4 linked regions of the Homo sapiens genome follow. The protein of the gene in region 4 purifies or fractionates together with the protein of the main gene of each other region. This does not show direct contact. Each region holds a gene or a part of one and is shown on either strand. Other genes may lie near its edges.

What was found. Proteins that work in one complex are often made in the same cells at the same time.
Region 1: the proteins of AACS (region 4) and CLIC4 fractionate together in Homo sapiens (co-fractionation; one large-scale study listed by BioGRID). This does not show direct contact.
Region 2: the proteins of AACS (region 4) and CMTR2 fractionate together in Homo sapiens (co-fractionation; one large-scale study listed by BioGRID). This does not show direct contact.
Region 3: the proteins of AACS (region 4) and UNC13D fractionate together in Homo sapiens (co-fractionation; one large-scale study listed by BioGRID). This does not show direct contact.

What each region holds. Positions count from the first base shown.
Region 1 is NC_000001.11:24,797,447-24,800,946, reverse strand, and holds part of CLIC4 (chloride intracellular channel protein 4), read right to left. Parts: intron 3,206-3,500; coding exon 3,096-3,205; intron 1-3,095. UniProt on the Homo sapiens protein: In the soluble state, catalyzes glutaredoxin-like thiol disulfide exchange reactions with reduced glutathione as electron donor. Can insert into membranes and form voltage-dependent multi-ion conductive channels.
Region 2 is NC_000016.10:71,286,603-71,290,736, reverse strand, and holds the start of CMTR2 (cap-specific mRNA (nucleoside-2'-O-)-methyltransferase 2), read left to right. Parts: upstream 1-1,334; 5' UTR 1,335-1,601; exon of another isoform or gene 1,602-1,799; 5' UTR 1,800-1,859; exon of another isoform or gene 1,860-2,181; intron 2,182-4,134.
Region 3 is NC_000017.11:75,827,405-75,830,904, forward strand, and holds part of UNC13D (protein unc-13 homolog D), read right to left. Parts: intron 3,258-3,500; coding exon 3,174-3,257; intron 3,079-3,173; coding exon 2,958-3,078; intron 2,748-2,957; coding exon 2,624-2,747; intron 1,580-2,623; coding exon 1,383-1,579; intron 683-1,382; coding exon 561-682; 3' UTR 1-560. UniProt on the Homo sapiens protein: Plays a role in cytotoxic granule exocytosis in lymphocytes. Required for both granule maturation and granule docking and priming at the immunologic synapse.
Region 4 is NC_000012.12:125,134,935-125,138,434, reverse strand, and holds part of AACS (acetoacetyl-CoA synthetase), read right to left. Parts: intron 1,774-3,500; coding exon 1,571-1,773; coding exon of another isoform or gene 1,493-1,570; exon of another isoform or gene 1-1,492.

The DNA of each region.
Region 1 (3,500 bases), on a different chromosome or scaffold from region 4:
AGAGGACCCTGCGGCCTTCCGCAGTGTTTGTCCCTGATTACTTGAGATTAGGGAGTGGTGATGACTCTTAACGAGCATGCTGCCTTCAAGCATCTGTTTAGCAAAGCACATCTTGCACCACCCTTAATCCATTTAACCCTGAGTGGACACAGCACACGTTTCAGAGAGCACAGGGTTGGGGGTAAGGTCACAGACCAACAAGATCCCAAGGCAGAAGAATTTTTCTTAGTGCAGAACAAAATGAAAAGTCTCCCATGTCTACTTCTTTCTACACAGACACGGCAACCATCCGATTTCTCAATCTTCTCCCCACCTTTCCCGCCTTTCTATTCCACAAAGCCGCCATTGTCATCCTGGCCCATTCTCAATGAACTGTTGGGCACACCTCCCAGACGGGGTGGTGGCCAGGCAGAGGGGCTCCTCACTTCCCAGTAGGGGCGGCCGGGCAGAGGCGCCCCTCACCTCCCGGACGGGGCGGCTGGCCGGGCAGGGGGCTGACCCCTCCACCTCCCTCCCAGACGGGGCAGCTGGCCAGGCTGGGGGCTGACCCCCCCACCTCCCTCCCGGACGGGGCGGCTGGCCGGGTGGGGGGCTGACCCCCCCACCTCCCTCCCGGACGGGGCGGCTGGCCGGGCAGAGGGGCTCCTCACTTCCCAGTAGGGGCGGCCGGGCAGAGGCGCCCCTCACCTCCCAGACGGGGCGGCTGGCCAGGTGGGGGGGCTGACCCCCCCCCCCGGACGGGGTGGCTGGCCGGGCGGGGGGCTGACCCCCCCCACCTCCCTCCCGGACGGGGCGGCTGGCCGGGCAGAGGGGCTCCTCACTTCCCAGTAGGGGCGGCCGGGCAGAGGCGCCCCTCACCTCCCAGACGGGGCAGCTGGCCGGGCAGGGGGCTGACCCCCCCACCTCCCTCCCGGACGGGGCGGCTGGCCGGGCAGAGGGGCTCCTCACTTCCCAGTAGGGGCGGCCGGGCAGAGGCGCCCCTCACCTCCCAGACGGGGCGGCTGGCCAGGTGGGGGGGCTGACCCCCCCCCCCGGACGGGGTGGCTGGCCGGGCGGGGGGCTGACCCCCCCCACCTCCCTCCCGGACGGGGCGGCTGGCCGGGCAGAGGGGCTCCTCACTTCCCAGTAGGGGCGGCCGGGCAGAGGCGCCCCTCACCTCCCAGACGGGGCAGCTGGCCGGGCAGGGGGCTGACCCCCCCACCTCCCTCCCGGACGGGGCGGCTGGCCGGGCGGGGGGCTGACCCCCCCACCTCCCTCCCGGACGGGGCGGCTGGCCGGGCGGGGGGGCTGACCCCCCCCACCTCCCTCCCCGACGGGGCGGCTGGCCGGGCGGGGGGCTGACCCCCCCACCTCCCTCCCCGACGGGGCGGCTGGCCGGGCGGAGACGCTCCTCACTTCCCAGATGGGGGGGCTGCCGGGCGGAGACGCTCCTCACTTCCCAGATGGGGTGGCTGCCGGGTGGAGAGGCTCCTCACTTCTCAGACGGGGCAGCTGCCGGGCGGAGGGGCTTCCTCACTTCTCAGACGGGGTGGTTGCCAGGCAGAGGGTCTCCTCACTTCTCAGACGGGGCGGCCGGACAGAGACGCTCCTCACCTCCCAGACGGGGTTGCGGCCGGGCAGAGGCGCTCCTCACATCCCAGATGGGGAGGCGGGGCAGAGGCGCTCCCCACATCTCAGACGATGGGCGGCCGGGCAGAGACGCTCCTCACTTCCTAGATGTGATGGCAGCCGGGAAGAGGCGCCGCTCCTCACTTCCTAGATGGGATGGCGGCCAGGCGGAGACGCTCCTCACTTTCCAGACTAGGCAGCCAGGCAGAGGGGCTCCTCACATCCCAGACGATGCGCGGCCAGGCAGAGACACTCCTCACTTCCCAGATGGGGTGGCGGCCGGGCAGAGGCTGCAATCTCGGCACTTTGGGAGGCCAAGGCAGACGGCTGGGAGGTGGAGGTTGCAGCGAGCCGAGATCACGCCACTGCACTCCAGCCTGGGCACCATTGAGCACTGAGTGAACCAGACTCCGTCTGCAATCCCGGCACCTCGGGAGGCCGAGGCTGGCGGATCACTCGCGGTTAGGGGCTGGAGACCTGCCCGGCCAACACAGCGAAACCCCGTCTCCACCAAAACCAGTCAGGCGTGGCGGCGCGTGCCTGCAATCGCAGGCACTCGGCAGGCTGAGGCAGGAGAATCAGGCAGGGAGGTTGCAGTGAGCCGAGATGGCGGCAGTACAGTCCAGCTTCGGCTCCGCATGAGAGGGAGACCGTGGAAAGAGAGGGAGACCGTGGAAAGAGAGGGACACCGTGGGGAGAGGGAGAGGAAGAGCAATACAACTATTCTTAACCCTTGATTTAAATCTTTTGGGGAAGGGGATGTATGAATGTTCTTCACCTCAGACCTGTTTGCTAAAGGTGAATAGACATTCCTGAATAAAACAGAGCTTTCTACTCATCACGGCTCTTCTCAGCCCTCTCCACTATGGAAAATAAGCCATAAAGTCATCCAGGAGAGAAACCTACAAACAACTCTTCACTTAGCAAGAACAGACACCGGGCCACAGATAATTGCTCTTATTTTACAATACATTTAAACAAATATGATTAAAATACTTGCATTATAGCTAAAATGCTATAGAAAATTACTGTTATTCTCTGAAAAATAAATTAAATGAAATTGACAACAACGGTATTCAACCTCCTAAAAATCCTTGTCTTTGAAGATCCAGATTATAAAGATCACATGCTTAACACATTTGGGGCCAAGATGATGTCTGCTTAGAAAGCTCTTCATGACTCCATGTTTACACTGGAAAAAAGAAGTCAAGGATTTCACTGCATCCACACTAACACTTAGCTCCTAGTGCTACTCATGAAATTTAAGGTAAACATACAAAAGTTCCTAAAAAAGACTGAGTAGCCACGCAGTATACTGACAGCGTGACTTGTCCAAAATAGTTATATACAAGTTGTTTGTCCATAAACCAGCAGAACTTTAATACAATATATTTCCTTTAGAGAATATGTGCCATCAAGGTGAAAATAGGATCAAACTGAAAAGATAGTTCAGCTTAAGTTGATTGCAAACTGCGACCATGTCTTACCTTTTCAGGTCAACAGTCGTCACACTAAATACAACTCCTTTGAGCCAAAGAATCATGAAGAGCCTCTGGGAAAAGGGGCAGTTTCCTATGCTTTCACCATCACTGCCAGCCTGGAAAACAGAATTAAACATTAAAAACAAGGTCAAAGTGATGATACTCAACATGACATAACTTTTTCTGAATTTTAATCAAGAGTACAAGAAGCCAGGAAAAGTTACATTGTGGAAGGAAGAGTAGAAATTTGGGTCTTTATTATTTTGTTCTTTCATTAGCCTTTTTTTTTTTTTTTCTTTTTTTGAGACAGGGTCTCCTTCTGTCACCCAGGCTGGAGTGCAGTGGTGCGATCTCAGCTCACTGCAACCTTCACCTCCCATCTTAGCCTCCCAAGCAGCTGGAGCTACAGGC
Region 2 (4,134 bases), on a different chromosome or scaffold from region 4:
ATGTCCTCTTTTTTTCCCGAGACGGAGTCTCGCACTGTCGCCCGGGCTGGTGTGCAGTGGTGAGATCTCGGCTCGCTCCAACCTCCGCCTCCCGGGTTCAAGCGATTCTCCTGCCTCAGCCTCCCAAGTAGCTAGGATTACAGGCGCCCGCCACCACGCCTGGCTAATTTTTTGCATTATTAGTAGAGACGGGGTTTCACTATGTTGGTCAGGCTGGTCTCGGACTCTTGACCTCGTGATCCGCTCGCCTCGGCCTCTCAAAATGCTGGGATTACAGGCGTGAGCCACTGCGCCCAGCCAAAGTGCATGTCTCTTTTCAACGTTTGCCTTCTGGGCTAGGCGGCTTGGCTCATGCCTGTAATCCCAGCACTTTGGGTGGCCGAGACCAACGGATCGCTTGAGTCCAGGAGTTCCAGACCAGCCTAAGATAGGGAGATGCCATCTCTCTAGGAGGATCGCGTGAGCCCGGGGAAGTTGAGGCTGCAGTGAGCCGAGATCGAGCCACTGCACACCAGCCTGGGTGAGGGTAAGACCTTGTTTCAGTAAACAAACAAATAAATAAGTTTGCCTTCCGTAAGGTTTCTAATAACGTTTTTCTTCCATCCACAGATGTAAACCTGTTTCCCCATAGTCACACCAACAGTGGTCATTACCAAGGTTTTACATCTTTGCTAAACCGAGTAAAAAGAAAACTTGCTGTTTTCATTTCCATTCTTGTCTAATAATAGTTTAAACAGTTTTGTATATCCTTAGTGGCTATTTGTTTGACTTTTTTGTTTTTTGGGAGGCCTGTTCTAATATTTGCTCATTTTCCTTCTGGGGTTGTTGGCCTTTTTCTTATTGGCTTATTAAGCAACATAATTAATATATATTATGTCATGTATATATAAACAATCTTATCTTGCAGTTCCCTAGTTTGGCTTTTAACCTATCGTCTTTTGAGCTGCAGTTTCAACCCAGTCTGTACAGGAAGTAACAACTGTCCAGAAGAGTCTGAAAGCCCTTGGGGCCAGCAGCCAGTGAGCGGAACCAGCACGTCCTGACAGACAGGTTTGCCCCGTCCCTTCCCTCCCTCCCCCTCCCCCTCCCCTTCGCCTCCCTGTCCCTCTCCCTTTCACCCCTCTTCGGGACGGAGCCAAAGAATGCTCCGCCTGCGCGCGCCGCTTCCGTTGCCATAGTGGCCGGGGGCGGGAGGCTGGCGCCTCCCAGCTTCTGTACTCCGCGAAGCAAAACCTAGGGAGCTGAGGCCTAGGCGAGGCGAGAGTCGCCGGCGTGCGTAACGTTGGCGCACGTGACTCCGGCCCGGCCTACAGGGCGCGTGCGCAGTGGGACTTGAGTGCCTCCTGGTCCCTGTCTGCCGGCATTCGCGGCTGCGGGGCCCGGAGGTGGGACTGGCTTCCCGGTGCCGCGAGGGCGGGTCCGGACAGCCTTCCCCCCAGTCCGGCGCACCATCTCCCTGCCTTGTGGCTGGAGGCGCCGCGGACCCAAAGGGAGGGACCATCCCGGGAAGCAGCCCCGAGAGCGGAAGTGCAGAATGGCTTCCTCGAGAGAGTAAAGTGCAGCCTCTCCAGACACTGGGGCCCCAGTGGGCGTGGGCGAAGGTAATCCAGGCCTGGGTACGATTCCGGGCCCTCCTTCGACTTCCCAGCGGGTGAGCCAGGGGCTGGGACTGAGTTTCCTCCAGGTCAGGGACCGGGCCTCTGGAGTGGGGTTTGGGACTTACTTCACTAGATGAAATGAGATATGGGGTGCCCGGCCCAAAGTCAGCCCTGGATACTCACTGGCCGTTGTTTTCACAGTTGCTGGTAGGAGGAGTTGGCGGAAGCACTTGGAACTCCTTTATAAGTGTCAGCTGTGAGGTAAAAACTGTTGATGAGATCTTGTGGGTTTTGTTTTGGGTTCACTAATTTGGGCGGGGGCTACATAACTGCCTACTTGAGTTTGCAATATGAGAATGGTAATAGCGACCCACTTAGCAGAATTATGATGTCACAAAGCTCAAAGGACTGTTTAATGAAAGGCTCAGAGGATCATATACTGGAAAATTTTTCCACACACGCTGTAAGCCACATGCTTTTTTTTTTTTTTTTAAGTCATGCATTTAAGTGCTGGAGTGAAGTTGAGGTGCACTATTAATGACTCATATTCAGAACCTGAAGAGAGAGATCCCTTTTGTGCTAAGTATGATATCCACTCATTTATTCAGTAATACTGAGTGCTTACTGTGTACCAGGCAATGTCCAACTTCTTGGAATGGTCTATGTGTAAACAAAACAAAGATCTCTGTCCTGTGGAGCTTACATTCTAGTTTGGGGAAGACAAATAATAAACAGTAAACAAAAAGAAGGAAGTTATAGGTTGGAAGTACATGAGTACCATAGGAAAAAAATACAGCGAGGTAAGAGGCATGGGGAATGCAAGATGCAATCTTAGGTAGGCTTCACTGAGAAAATGACATTTGAGCAAATATTGGAAGGAGGTGAAGGAGTTAGCTGTGCTGACAGCTGGGGAAAGAGCATTCCAGGCAGAGGGACCACCAATGCAGAAAGACTTTTGTCTTGGAATGTGCTTGGTGTCTTCAGTGAACAGCAGAAAGGCCTGTTTGGCTGGAGTAGTGAGTAAGGGAGTAGTAATAAAAATTAGGTGGCAACACAGCAAAAGTATAGTCAGAACGGTGGAGTGTCTGAATCACTTAAGTTGTCCTCATGTGAAGGTAATTTCCTATTAGCTTAGGTAAGGTTTCACAGCTTAACTACAGCCGTTAATTAGTATGTGAAGTTAATGATTAAAATTAGACTTTTTCCGAAATAGAGTATAGATGAGATCTAAACATGGCTGTAGTTTCCAGCAAGCACAATGCGAATTAAGACAGAGGAGCTTGTTGAAAAAAACTTTTATATGCCCTTATTTTAAGATTTTAGTGAATGTGGAAACACCTCAGTTTTGTCTTCCTTTAGAAATTTGTCTAAATATAGCTCTACCAGTAAAAAAGAAACAAACAAAAAACAGGCATAGTGGCTGACACCTGTAATCCCAGCACCTTGGAAGGCCGAGTTGGAGGGATTGCTTGAGCCCAGGATTTTGAGACCAGCCTGGGCAACAGAGCAAGACCCCATCTCCACAATTTTTTTTTTAACTAACTGGGTGTGGTGGTGCACGTCTGTAGTCCCAACTCCTTTGGAGGCTGAGGTGGGAGGATCCTTTGAGCCTGGGAAGAGGTCAAGGCTGCAGGGAGCTATGACCTGTGCCACTGCACTCCAGCCTGGGTAGCAGAGTGAGACCCTGTCTCAAAAAAAAACTTTTTTTTAATATAAATATACCGTGGCAAACAAATGACTAAGAAGACACCTGTTACTTCAAGGAAATTACAAACTGGTAGAGTAGACTTGCAAATAATTTAAACAAAATAAGAAAGAATGAAAAAAGTGTGCTAAAAGAACAGTACAAAGTAAATGCTAAAAGAAACATCATCTGAATATTATTGTATGTATTACAGCAGTAGTTCCCTTTGTTTCTCATTTTGTCCTTGAACATCTGCTTTTCTGGAGTGATGATTTGATTGCCAATTTTTTCATATTTAACAAATTCAGATTTTTTTGAAAATCATTTGTAGAATGCATTGTGTATGCTAAATAAGTGCAGAATTTGTGAACTAAAGCATCTATTGATTAACATTGCACTAACAGGTACCATGTAATATTCATTGCTCTCCCTGCTGGAATTTGTAACTTTTCCAAAACTATGCCATTAAGCCATACTTCTCATATCCTTTTTCCTCTTCAGAAGGAAGAGGTTTCTTTGTTTCTGGTTTCTTTGGCAGTGTTGACTGCCAGAGTATGTAGAGTGACTATTTGTAATTTGTATATTCAATATGTATATTTCTTCAGTATAAAATTCTGCTATCCAAGTGTTAAGTTTTAGTGGCTAGAAGAAATAATGATATGTTATGGTGGAAGTGTGGAGCTGTCTGAACCATATGAAAGCCAGGAATCTATAGTTTGAGACATACCGGGTAAACAGTTGGTCACTTTCAGCATCAAGCAGAAAAAGGCTAACCACTCAAGTACAGCACAGTTTACAAGCAGTATGATGATGAACGTTAGTTGATGACCTGTATAGGTGATTGGTACCACC
Region 3 (3,500 bases), on a different chromosome or scaffold from region 4:
GTTCTTGGCTCCAGGCTTCCTGGCCTGGATGCTGGCAGCCCCTGGGGAGAGGACCCAGGCCCCCTCTAGTAATGGCCACCACCCTCCCCCCAGGGCAGCTGGAGCCTCATCTTTGGCAGGGTCCCCTCTCCCTTTTCCAGGAGACTCTGTGCCTGTAGCCCTGGTCCCAGTGAACCTGGCCCCCACCCCAGTGGCTGGAACAGGAAGGCCAGGAGGCAGATGGGCCAGGGCCAGGAGACAGATGGCCCAATCCCCTGCCCACCACAGCAGCTTTTCTGAGAGGCGGGCAGGGGCAGGGTTTGCTCCCCCTGGTGCTGGGATGTGGTAGAGACATTGCAGCCAGGGCTGGAGGCAGGGAGGCGGGAGTAGAGATGTCGCTGCTGAGCCCCCATCACCATGGGAGGCAGGGGAGGTCTGCACTCTGGGCACTCCGCATGCTGGGGCTCCCCAAGTGTTAGGCCAGGCTGGAGGGCCGCGATGTGGCGGGGAAGCCCCAGACCCTACAGGAAAGCCCTTGCAAGTCCCCACCGGGGACCCAGCCCCACCGCAAACCTCTACGGCTACGGTGCCGGCCGCAAGGCATGCTGGGAGGCCTGCTTGGCCCGGTGCCGCCGCAGCCTCACAAAGACCTGGGCTTCTCGGTCACCCTTCCGGCCCTCCAGCAGCTGCAGGATTGGGTCCCCTGCGGAGAGAGGGGTTTGGGGGTCAGATGCCAGGGGAGAGGGCAGTGCCTGGTGGTGGCAGAGAAGAGTGTGTGGGGGGGTACACAACACTGCTCCATCTCCCCAACAACCTGGAAGGAAACAAGTGACAGACCCGCGCCAGCCCAGCCCAGGAGGTGGTCTGACAGACGCATCCGGTCGGGTCGCGTAACAGACAGAGTGCTGCTGGGACACTGTCCTGACTGCAGCGAGGGGCTGAGATGTGCCTGAGGTTTGACTATTACCTTTTTATACGAGAACCTAAAGCTAGCAAGTTAACCTTTTCATGCCTCGGTTTACTCATCTGTAAAAGAGTGCTAATATCTGCTTCGTTGGCTGGAATGCATAAAGTGCTTAGCACTTGCTCATAATAAGTGCACAAGCATCAGACCGTTGCTGGTATCAAAAATGCTCTGCAGGGAAGCGGCCCCGCCGAGTGAGATCCAGGCCCTTCTCCCCAGTTAAACTTCTTGGTGACTTCCCCATGCAAGGAGAGTCACGTTACACTTAGCTTAAAGTTCACTGGTCTCTTGATTAGACCGAGAGATGGGCCGTGGCTGTCCCACTGGCTCCCGTCTCCAGGGAAGCTGTTCTCCGACCCTGGCATCACCTCTCTGGGGCCCCTGCCTGAGCTTTACAGGCTCCCGTCCCCGCACCACCCTGCCCTGGGCTCAGGCCTACCGTTGGGTGCGGGGTACGTGAGGGGCAGGCGGGTCTGAGGCACCTCACCAGGCTCCTCAGAGCCACTCAGCCCGGGCACCTCACGCAGCGGCAGGAAGGCCTCGCCTTCCAGGTCGTCGGCCCCCAGCGTGTCGTAGTCCAGCACGGTGAGCAGGAGGCATGCCCCAGCCTTGCGGCACGGCTCAGCAGGCACCAGGCTGCGGGGAGAGTCAGGGCTCTGCTGCCAGCCCCAGCACAGCCACCCCAGCCTCGGCACATGGGTTCACCCACTTGGTGTTGGGAACCAGCCAGGGTTTGGACTGCAAAGCCAGCTCTCAGCCTGGCACCTCTCAGCCATGTGGTGCAATGCCTGCTCTGACCGTGGGCTGATGCTTTAAACCAGCGGTCCTGTGTTCCCTGTTCACCTGTGCTGAGGAACTAGGAGCAGGTTACTGAGAACCTCAGAGACAGGACCCTTCCCTGGAAGTCCCTAAGTTAAACACCTGGGAGTCCACCCCTTCCCCCAAGGGAAGCAAACTTTTTTTTCTGAGACGGAGTCTTGCTCTGTCACCTAGGCTGGAGTGCAGTGGCGCCATCTTGGCTCACTACAACCTCCGCCTCCCGGGTTCAAGTGGTTCTCCTGCCTCAGCCTCCCGAGTAGCTGGGACTGCAGGCGTGTCCCACCACACCCAGCTAATTTTTTGTTTTTAGTAGAGACGGGGTTTCACCATGTTAGCCAGGATGGTCTTGATCTCCTGACCTCGTGATCCGCCCGCCTTGGCCTCCCAAAGTGCTGAGATTACAGGCATGAGCCACCACGCCTGGCCCTCTTTTTTTTTTTTTTTTTTTTTGAGATGGAGTCTCACTCTGTCGCCCAGGCTGGAGTGCAGTGGCACCATCTCAGCAGCCTCTGCCTCCTGGGTTAAGCAATTCTCCTGCCTCAGCCTCCCGAGTAGCTGAGAGTACAGGTACCCACCATCATGCCCGGCTAATTTTGTATTTTTAGTAGAGACTGTTGGCCAGGCTGGTCTTGAACTCCTGACCTCAAGTGATCCGCCTGCCTCGGCCTCCCAAAGTGCTGTGATGACAGGTGTGAGCCACCACATCCAGCTGCAAACTCTTGTCCCAGATGCCCCATCCCTTGGGCCCAAATGTGGCCATCTCAGGGGAGCCCCTTGGCCCCAGCCAGGAGGAGCAGGCCTGAGGGAGCCCAGTGGGGAGAGATGAGGGGAGGGACTGGGAGAAGAACGGGACCCACTCACAATTCAAAGGTCTCATCAAACAATGGGTGAAGGTCCTTCTTGTGCTTCTGGGTCTCCCGGGCGGCCAGCTCAGGGAACTCATGCCTGGGCTCCAAGGTCAGCTGGACAAAGGGGTCGCTGGAGCCTGGTAAGTGGCCGGGGAGTGTGCGTCAGCTGAGGGTCTCCCAGGCACCCCACCCCAGCAGCTATGCTCTGCTCAGCGGCACTGACCCCTCCTGGTAACTGGAGGAAATGCACCCAGAGCTCCTGCAGGGTGAGCGAAGCCCCCAGGGTCGCTGAGACAGGAGGGCCAGGACGGGACCATGGAGAGTGGCCAAAGGCAGCCTCCACTCACCATTGGAGTCCAGGGGCAGCAGGCTGGAGGCGCTGAGCAGCTCCACACGCAGCTTCTGCTCAGAGGCGCGGTAGGAGGCCTTGACTGTCACAGCCCCCAGCTCCTCAGAGGTGGTTTCTGCCTGGGGTGGGGAGCAGGGGCAGGGTCAGCAGGGTCACAGCGGGAGCGGGGTGCTCCAGGGCCTGCAGAGGGCGCAGTGCGAGGGAGGGGCCTCACCTGCTGCTGGATTCGGCTGCAGAAGTACTTCCGGATGAGTTCCCGGCTGGAGGCCGCCTGCAGCTCCAGGTCCCTCTGCAGAGCCTGGGAACACATACAGCTGAGGATCCACCTGGACTGCACGCCCAACCACAGCCCAGGCCTGCCCTCCAGGAGCTCACTGTCAAGGGTAACATGTCCGTTTGAAATGGAAAGTATTGGGTCATGGGACAACGGGCTGGGGCCACCCTCAGGCCAGACAGACAGCAGGAGAGGCACAGACAGGGCTGGCTTCACAGGCGTGCTTCCCCGACCCCACCCCCCATGCGGGCACACAGGGCCCCTGTG
Region 4 (3,500 bases):
AGAAAAAGACAATAAGGGTCACTGATTCAAGAAGTACCTTCTTGGAGAGCATCAGTGTCCCCACAGAGAGCCGCCAAGAGTCACCAACCAAAAATAAGGGAAAAAGAAAGAGATGGATGGAAAGCCCCAAGCTGCAGGGCTCTTCCCATGCAGAACCAGAACACAAAGGAAACGTGTGGACACCACAAAAAGCAACCAACACCGCAGATGCGGGCAGGCGCCGGGAGGAGGAGGGACAGGGGTCCCGAGTGGGAGTCAGCGCAGATGTGGACAGGCGCCGGGAGGAGGAGGAACAGGGTCCCGAGTAGGAGTCAGTCTTCCAGGGATGATCAGGGATTGCACACCGTTGTCGTGCTGCAAGCGCTCTCCCCAGCCCCCACTCCTGGACAGGTTGTTTTGAAGATGTTGAAATAACTTTTAAGGCAAAGAGAATGATCTACGGGTTTCAAAGTAAACGGCATCAGATATTTCAACATTCTCCAGGAAGCAGACTCTCCTGGTAAATCCTGTCTCTAGTTACACCTCACAGAATCAGCCCTGCTCCCGGGCAACATCAAAGTCAGCTTCCCCTGGGAACCCAGTGAGTGTGTGCTCCCATCTTCTCCTTAACGAATAGCCATTCCATAGGCTTCAAATACAGCCTGCCACTGTCTAAATTGTTGTATACATTCACATACACACACACACTCACACACACACAGCAGCTTCTGTCAGCTTGCGGGGTATCCGTTTTGTAAGCAATGCAAATGAAAGCTGTGATCCAATTTGGGTGACCCTCCTCCTCCCCCACTTAGAATCAAAGCAGAGCGTACTGGGGCCAGGGGCTGGGGGATGACGACACAGCCTTAGGAAGACCTGCCTCTAAAAAGAGTCAAGTCTTGTCTGTACCAGCAGAACTTAAAACTAAAAGGCAACAGCAACGGCTCCCAGCAGCACTTTAAAAAGTTAAAATTGGCTGGGTAGAGTGGCTTACGCCTGTAATCCCAGCACTTTGGGAGGCTGAGGTGGGCGGATCACTTGAGGTCAGGAGTTTGAAACCAGCCTGGCCAACATGGCAAAACCCCATCTTTACTAAGAATACAAAAATTAGCCAGGCATGCTGGCATGTGACTGTAATCCCAGCTACCAGTTAACTCAGGAGGCTGAGGCAGGAGAACTGCTTGAACCTGGGAAGCGGAGGTTGCAGTGAGCTGAGATTGAGCCATTGCATTCCAGCCTGGGTGACAGACTCAGTCTCAAAAAAATAAAATAAAAAATAAAAAGTTAAAATTAATGTTCTCATTAAAAATTTTGAGAATACACTAAAACCAGGGGATAGCAGGGAGAAGCCAGTTGGACCTGCAGGGCTGGGCCTGCTAACCCTCTGAACATGGGTATTTAGCAGAAGTTGCTTTAAATGCAGTCTTAGGAAGGGTAGGAAAAAGGATGGCAGGGAGAGGATGGCGTTGCTAGGCAACGTGGACAAACGATATATAAAGCACCGGCAAGCTGCTCAGATGTAAGCGCCCCTCAATGTGTGGGCTCGTGGGGCGATGGCTGCGGTCTCCTCGCTGGCGGGAGATGGCCATACCGGGATGCCCTTGGTTTCCAGGATGAGGCTGGGCACGTGTCGCGCAGACAAGCCCATGCGGATGGCGTCACGGATCCTCTTAACCAAGTCAGGCTGGAAGGCGTGCCCGGAGGCCATCTTCAGGAAGAGGATCACCCTCTCCTCCCTGTACTTGTTATACTGGGGGACACACAGGCTGTCCTCCACCTCCTCGAAGGATTCCACTGTGGAGACAGGAGAGGGTGCACATTCACGCAGGGGGCCCCTCAGTGTGGGGTCGGGCCTCACAGCAACCTGGCAGAGCAGGAGGGGCAGGCTGGGTCCCCCAAGCCTTCCAGCGGTGCCTGTGTTCTCCCAGTCCACCCAGGAGAAGGGCCTTGGAGGGACATTTGCTGAGGAGGCCGTTTCACAAGCGGAAGAAAACCCATCACTGGGGAGGCAGAGAGAGCTTCAGGTTTGGCAGGATGGGTGATGTTCTACCAGGAAGCCAGGTGTGGGCCTTACTTAATGAGAAATTAATTCAAGATAAAAAAGAGGGCCGGGCATGGTGGCTCACGCCTATAATCCCAGCACTCTGGGAGGCTGAGGTGAGAGGATCACTTAAGTCCAGGAGATTGAGACCAGCCTGGACAACATAGGGAGACTTTGTCTCTACGAAAAATCAAAACCTAAGTTAGGCATGGTGACACACACCTGGAGACACAGCTACTCGGGAAGCTGAGGCAGGAGGATCGCCTGAGCCCAGGAGGTCGAGGCTACAGTGAGTTATGATGGCGCCACTGCCCCCCAGCCTGGCCAACAGAGTGAGACCCTGTCGGCCTCCCAAAAAAGGAGGCAGGTGGCCGGGCACAGTGGCTCACACCTGTAATTCCAGCACTTTGGGAGGCCGAAGTGGGTTGATTACTTGAGCTCAGGAGTTTGAGACCAGCCTGGCCAACATGGCAAAACCTCATCTCTACAAAAAATACAAAAATTAGCTGGGCATGGTGGTGCACGCCTGTAGACCCAGCTACTCAGGAGGCTGAGGTGAGAGGATTGCTTGAGCCCAGGAGGCGGAGGTTGCAGTGAGCTGAGATCACACTATTGCACTCCAGCCTGTGAAGAGAGTAAGACCCTGTCTCAAAAAAAAATTTTTTTAAAAAAGAAAGCAGGTGCCTGTGGTGGGGACTCCACTGGAGTGAGGAAAAAAGGCTGGAATCAGACATCGGGATTTCTCTACCCTGGCCACACAAACGACCTTGACATAAGTTTAGGACTCTGACCTAAGCACTAGCATAAGAGGCCATCTGACCAACTCTGCGGCCTGGGCTGGGTCTGGGTCCCTGGGCTGGGAAGTTTGAAGGCCCACAGGTGACTCCACTGTACAGTTGTGAGATCCACAGGCCTACACTCTCTGTGCTTGGTGTCCTGCATGATGCTGTGTGACCTTCAGCAATCCTGAACCCTCTCTGTGCTTCTGGTTTCTTCAACCATAAAGAGTAGACACAAGTTGGCCGGGCGTGGTGGCTCATGCCTGTAATCCCAGCACTTTGGGAGGCCGAGGCAGGCGGATCACTTGAGGTCAGGAGTTCGAGACCAGCCTGGCCAACACGGTGAAACCCCATCTCTACTAAAAATACAAAAACTAGCTGGGCATGGTGGTGCATGTCTATCATCCCAGCTACTGAGGAGGCAGAGGTTGCAGTGAGCCAAGATCGCGCTCCAGCCTGGGTGACACAGCGAGACTCTGTCTCCAAAAAAAAAAAAAAGAGTAGATAGACACAAGTAACCAGCCCAGCAGAGCTCACCGGGAGGATGAGCTATAATGAGGAAGAGGATGGGCAAAGGGACCTTAAAGACCCCATTTGAGGTTTTATGAGGATGGCAGTGTGGGCAAGGTATGTTCTGGAAAGGAGGTCAGGCTCACAAATGTCCACTGTCACACCAGAGAACAAGGGGCCAGAGTTGTGCC